Linked DNA regions of Homo sapiens. The protein of the gene in region 1 interacts with the protein of each later gene in a pairwise test. Each region holds a gene or a part of one and is shown on either strand. Other genes may lie near its edges. The genes, in order: ROBO2 and OLFM2.

Region 1 (3,013 bases):
AATATAAATTAAATGAAACTCTAAAATGTGTTGTCCTAAACCTTGTATTTTTAAAAATATTTTTCAATGAGTGTCTCAGGATTTAACCATAATCTTTTTCCTTTTTTCTGTCACTAGTATTATTATTTTAAAGAATACAGAAACTGCCTCTCTTTATTTTTGGAAAAAAAAATTGAGCCTATAGTTGTACTTAGCAGTGAAAAAGAATGCAATATTTATGAAATATAATAAAATGGGGCATTTTTCTTTTCTACTCAGTCCCTGAGATAACTTTTCAACATCCAGTATAAAAACATCCAAAATAAAAGAAATTCATAATTATTTCTTCTAAAGCAATTGAGAAAAATTCATTTTCTCTCAATTTTCATATTTACTTATACTTTCAAAAATAAGATATTTGTTTTAAATCTATCTAAAGGTCTTCATGGTATGGGGAAAGTAGCAGTGCTGATAGAATGGGGTCTGTATTTCAAATGCTTGCTGTATTCTTTATCAGCGTCTGTTAGTCACTACTAAAAGTCAACACCAGTTCCTATTTATCACTATTCAAACCATAACTGAGTGAGAAAACTGAGATTATGCATTTAGTCACAAAATATTAATGCAGAGTTCTAAAAGTGGCTACCTGGTCTTTTTTTAGCATGTCTACAAACAGGTTTGTTTTACATAAATGGCTTTTCTACAAATTTGAAATGTGAATATATTTTATTTTTTCCCAGTGAGTACACAATACACAATTCTTTGACAATACTATTAACCGATTTTATGCCAATTTCTTCTCTGATCTAACAACATCAAATGAAACACATTAAGATTTTGGATGCTGCTTGGTGACTTAAACAAACTACAGTTAAAAAAAATCCATCTATAAAACAAAGTATAAAAAGTCTACCCACGGCCACAAAATCCCTTTTCTTGCAACACTTTAAAATCACAACAAATGCTTTTTAAATTATGAGATTTAAAAAAATTAGTAAATTGAACATCTTTTTTTAGAAAAAAGTATGGTGTTTCATTTGAAGTACACATTATAGAGAAGCAAAACAAAAGTAATTTCACCTCTAAAATAATGTGGAAAGACATGTTGCTTTAGAACAGTTCTTGCCATGTAATTCCATAAACAATATACAGAAGCAGATGAACAAATTAGTGAATATTATGTTTCTGCATATCTTTAATACTGATGCACAGTTGCTTCCCAGTAGTGAAGATAAACCACAGTTTAGAGTTCAATGGTACTGTTATCATTATATTGTCAATGGACAATTACATAAGTTTATTGAATAGAAATTGAGAGGTGTTCCATCAAAGCACATTACAAACTTTCAACTCAAATCCTGTTGAAAACATATTTAAATACCCAGAGCATTAAACTATGACATAGAACACCATTAAATCTGTTTTGTACTCAACGCAAGTAAACTTGCAATGGTTTTACTTTTCTTGGTTGTGTGATACCTTATATGTTGGTTTTGAATTTTCTACATTCTCCCTTGAACTGGATTCAAATCCTGTGAAGGAATCAATTCTTTTCATGCCCCTGTACTATCCCATCTTATTTTAAAAATCTCACAGGACATGTTTGGAAGAGGGGTAGGGCGACTCCACCTGCATACACTGGCATACCTGAGTTTGGGCACCAATAGAGCTATTTTCCCAAAGAAGACGTTTCCTGTTATGAATGAAGCTGTGCTTGTATTGGACATGATTGCATTGCAGCATTGCCTATGAGTGCAAGATCAGATTACATTCTCTCCCACCCAGATTTCCTCTTGCAGTCCTTATGCAGGCCTCCATTTAAACCTGCAAGAGTGAGCTCAGTGAATTTCTAATCATATTCATTGAATCGGCTATGAAACGAGAAACTGCTGTGGCTCTCATAGGTATTTGTATTTTTCTGTTGACATCTGACTCAACACTGATTAGTAGCTTTTTACTACTTTGTCAGTAGCAAGCTGACAAAGGCTTTGCTTTCCAGTAATGTTTCTGAATTCCTTTGTATAGCTACATACAGCATTTTATCTTGCCCTCAATCTACCTGAGGGTGATATTTTGGGTGCATAAATTGACTGCCCAATGTGTTTAAAACTAGGTTTAATAGGCAACATGGACTATTCTGAAAGAACATTCCAAGTAACCACAAGCTCTGCACTGACATAATTTTAACTACAACAGTTAATTTTTATATGCTGAAGACAATCAGGAAGGTATGATGCTATGCCCACGTTATTCCAAAAGTCATCTGCACACACATACTTCACTTTGAAGCCTTGGTTTATTAATCACCAACACCTGCCAGTTACCAGGGATCAAAGGCTATGTGTTGTATATGTAATGAACTAAGGTTTTAGACTAAACTGGGTCATAGAGAAACATAAAGAGGGAACACAAAACCTCTTCGAAATTTGTTTGCCTTTAAATAGAAAGAGGTTAGGCAGGGAACTTCATAAAGAGATATTTAAAGTCCTCACATCCTAGAGTTGTGAATAAGTATGTATTCACTCTTTGAAGAAACTTTTCATCTTCCTCAGTCTCTTTGTCCCAGAGAAATCACACTGCATTAGAATTCAGGCACTGATGGTAGAAAGTTGATAAAGGGTTTAATAACTGTGTCTCAGAATTCTTTTTCTCTTCAGCGAAGAAATAAATTACATGGCACCAAAAAGCTGGTGGGGCCCATGAAGAACATTACATTCTATACTTGCCTGTGCTGATGCAGTCTCAGGGAATAGAAAGGATGGAAATGTTTAATTATGTCATCTCCTTGTTATAACGACGTGACAAAAATTGGCTACTGAGCCAATAATGCATGGAGTGCGAATTGTCACTCAAAGGGGTCCCGTATTTTAGAACTGATCCTAATCACGTTGAATATTTTTAGAAGAGTACCAACAACTGAACTTATCATAGGAAAAATTTGAGAAAGTATAGACAGAAATAAAATTTAAGATTGTGTAGGAAACCCATGGGAAAATGTCACAAGTGGGAATTTCAGGAAGGTCCTCTTCTACTT
Region 2 (3,628 bases), on another chromosome or scaffold:
AAAAATTAGCCTGGCATGGTGGTGCGTGCCTGTAATCCCAGCTACTCGGAAGGCTCAGGCACGCGAATCGTGTGAACCTGGGAGGTGGAGGTTGCAGTGAGCTGAGATCATGCCACTGCACTCCAGCGTGGGTGACAGAGCAAGACTGTCTCAAAAAAAAAAAAAAGAAAAAAAAAATTCCAGACCTCTTAGTAATGCATCAACAGTGATTGCAGAGTGGCAATCCAGTGACGGGAGAATACTCATTTGAGGCCAGTTTTCATTGCTGTGCTAGAATTCTCGGTTGTTTTGATCAAACTGCTTTTAAACGAATTGCTTTCGATCAAAACAACTTTGGATTGGGTCTCCTCACCCATCTCCCCAAAGGGCTGGCCCTGGGGAACCCCTTCCCCCCAGTTCGCTTAAGCTTGAGTCATGGAATAAGGGGATCCTCACTGGAGATGGGTCTCCAGGCTTGGACTTCGGGGCCACCTCCACCTCTGTCGCCATTGGACACACACAGTCACCGAAGCGTCAAATGTCAAAGGTCCTGTTTATTCCGGCAAACCGGAAAGAAAAAGTGTAAATAAAAAAAGAAACAGATCCATGCACTCAACTCCTGGGGGTGGGGGTGGGGGTGGGAGTGAGGGATGAGGAATGGGTGGGAAGCAAGGAGGGAGGGGTGGAAGGACAGAGAGAGAGAGACAGAGAGAGGCAGAGACGGAAAGAACTGGAGAACCAGAGCCATAAAAAGAAAAAGACATCCATAAAAAGGCAGAAAGAAAGAAGTGGTGTATTAAAAGCAGAGATCAATAAAGGAGAAGAGGGGAAATTGAAAAAATAGACAGAAATACATAGGCAGAGAACAAAAGCCCAGCAAAAAGGCGGGGAGAAAGGGCGTGACAGAGACAGAGAGATCACCCTTGAGGGACACAGGCAGAATGAAAAGGGCCCCCAGCCCCCAGAGGCCCCCCAGGCAGCAGCCCGAGCCACAGCATTGGCTCAGGGGTCCCCAGAGGTGCTGATGACGTGAAACAGGGTGACATTGTAGAGCACCTGGTGGCCGTTGTTCCAGGTATAGAGGGCGCGCTCCCGGGGGTTGTAATCCAGCATCGAGATGTGGGAATACTGGTTGTGGAAGGGCACGTCCGTGTACTCGTAACTGGACGTGTTGGTAAAATAGGCGAAGTAGACCTTGGCCCCAGCCAGGTGGGAGTTGGTCACGTAGAGCACACCGCAGATCATGAAGGCCTCGCCAGCGCTGCGCTTGGGGTAGCCGGTGTCCCAGGACCGCATGACCTCGAGGGTGTGCGGGTCCAGCCGGCTGACCACGATGTTGCCCGCGTTCTGGTTGGTGGTGTACACAGCCCAGAGCCCGCTCTCGTCCACCATGAAGTCCATGTCGGAGAAGCCGCCCCAGGAGTAGGGGAAGGTGTTGTTGTAACCGGCGCCCGGGAGGCTCCTCTGCACCAGCACAGAGCGCGAGCGGAAGTGGTATTTGACCACCACGTTGCTCTGGTACTTGTTATAGAACAGGGAGCCGTTGTACACCACGTGGCCCGTGCCCGCCCACGGCTGGGGCAGCAGGTGCTGGATAAAGTTCTGGCCTTTGATGAAGTCTCCCAGGGTACGGAACTCCAGGACCCGGCGGCCTTTGTAATAGCCATCCATGTACCAGACCTATGGTAGCAGCCGCTGGTCACTGGGGGGAACCACCACCAACGACCCAAGGGTCCCAGCACCAGCTACAGCCATTAGAGTTCAACAGTCACTAAGTGGTCATTAGTCATGGGAACTCTGTTGACCATTCATTACCAATTATGGCCCTAGTGTGACCATGATCATCTCCTGGTGACAGCATTAACCATGGGCAGTGAATTCAAGTGACGTCTTATCACTCAATGGCTGTCCAGTGACCACTAACCACCCAATATCCAATGACCAGGGAATTCCTGGGCCCAGTGAGTCCCCAGGGGCTGCAGTTTCTTGGGGAACTGCATGGCCCCAGTAGGACCCAAATCCCAGTGAGTGCTATTGGTCTTTTTTTTTTTTAAGTAATTTTTTTTTTTTTTTTTGAGATGGAGTCCCTCTCTGTTGCCCAGGCTGGAGTACAGTGGCGTGATCTCAGCTCACTGCAACCTCCGCCTCCCAGGTTCAAGTGATTCTCCTGCCTCAGCCTCCTGAGTAGCTGGGATTACAGGCGCATCCCACCACACCCGGCTAATTTTTGTATTTTTAGTAGAGATGGGGTTTCACCATGTTGGTCAGGCTGGTCTCAAACTCCCGACCTTGTGATCCACTGTCTCAGCCTCCCAAAGTGCTGGGATTACAGGCATGAGCCACCACGCCTGGCCTTTTTTTTTCTTTTGAAACAAAGTCTCACTGTTTTTCCCAGGCTGGCGGGCAGTGGCACAATCACGGCTCACTGCAGCCTCGACCTCCCAGGCTCAAGCAATCCTCTCACCTCAGCCCCCCGGAATAGCAGGGACTACAGGCACAAGTCACCACGCCCAGCTTATTTATTGTATCTTTAGTAGAGACAAGGTCTCGCAATGTTGCCCAGGCTAGTCTCAAACTCCTGAGCTCAAGTGATCTGCCTGCCTCGGCCTCCTAAAGTGCTGGGATTACAGGCGTGAGCCACTGCACCTGGCCACTATTGATCTTAAAACAGACCCTAAGTGGACAATGCTCCATCCCAAAGGACCCAGGGAACTGCAGCCCCTGGGGAGTCACTGGGCCCAGGAATTCCCTGGTCATTGAATATTGGGTGGTTAGTGGTCACTGGACAGCCATTGAATGATAAGACATCACTTGAATTCACTGCCATGGTTAACTAACCCCTGTCACCATGAGGTGACCAGGCGTGTCATCAACATCATTGTTGTCATCATGTTAACTAGCATTTGTTGTTGTTTTTGTTTTGTTTTGTTTTGAGACAGAGTTTCACTCGTGTTGCCCAGGCTGCAGTGCAATGGTGCGATCTTGGCTCACTGCAACCTCTGCCTCCAGGGTTCAAGTGATTCTCCTGCCTCAGCCTCCCGAGTAGCTGGGATTACAGGCATGCACCACCATGTCCGGCTAATTTTGTATTTTTAGTAGAGACAGGGTTTCTCCATGTTGGTCAGGCTGGTCTCGAACTCCCGACCTCAGGTGATCCGCCCACCTCAGCCTCCCAAAGTGCTGGGATTACAGGCATGAGCCACCATGCCCAGCCTCATGGATGGTTCTTGTGTGTCTAAGTGATGGGCAGTCATGACCATGGAAGCTACTAGAAGTCCGAAGGTCACTGAGCAGTGCTTGGTGGAAGAGGTCTCTTGTCCTTGGGAGGGCATTGGTCATTGGGTAGTTACTTGGACGTCAGTAGTCCCTGAGAACTGGTCAGTAGAACTCAGTAACCATTAGCCACTATACAGACACTGGAGGTCAACAGAGTGGGATTCACAAGGCTGCAAAGCCCTTGGTCACTTGGGGGTTACTGGACAGGGAGGTCCAATGGCCCTGGGGGATCCAGGACACTTTGGGCTACAAGACAGTCACCAGTGTGGACTCCCTAGGCACCTATGGGCAGTCAAAGGCTCTGTCCCTCCCAGGCCCTGACCCCAGGGGTGGGCGCAGTCACTCACCCGGCTATCCGCACTGGGGGCCATCG

Evidence for each region.
Region 2: the proteins of ROBO2 (region 1) and OLFM2 interact in a two-hybrid assay, tested with the Homo sapiens proteins (one large-scale study listed by IntAct).

The regions. Positions count from the first base shown.
Region 1 is NC_000003.12:77,647,638-77,650,650, reverse strand, and holds the end of ROBO2 (roundabout homolog 2 isoform 23 precursor), read right to left. Parts: 3' UTR 687-3,013; downstream 1-686. UniProt on the Homo sapiens protein: Receptor for SLIT2, and probably SLIT1, which are thought to act as molecular guidance cue in cellular migration, including axonal navigation at the ventral midline of the neural tube and projection of axons to different regions during neuronal development.
Region 2 is NC_000019.10:9,853,205-9,856,832, forward strand, and holds the end of OLFM2 (noelin-2 isoform 2 precursor), read right to left. Parts: coding exon 3,603-3,628; intron 1,660-3,602; coding exon 982-1,659; 3' UTR 514-981; downstream 1-513. UniProt on the Homo sapiens protein: Involved in transforming growth factor beta (TGF-beta)-induced smooth muscle differentiation.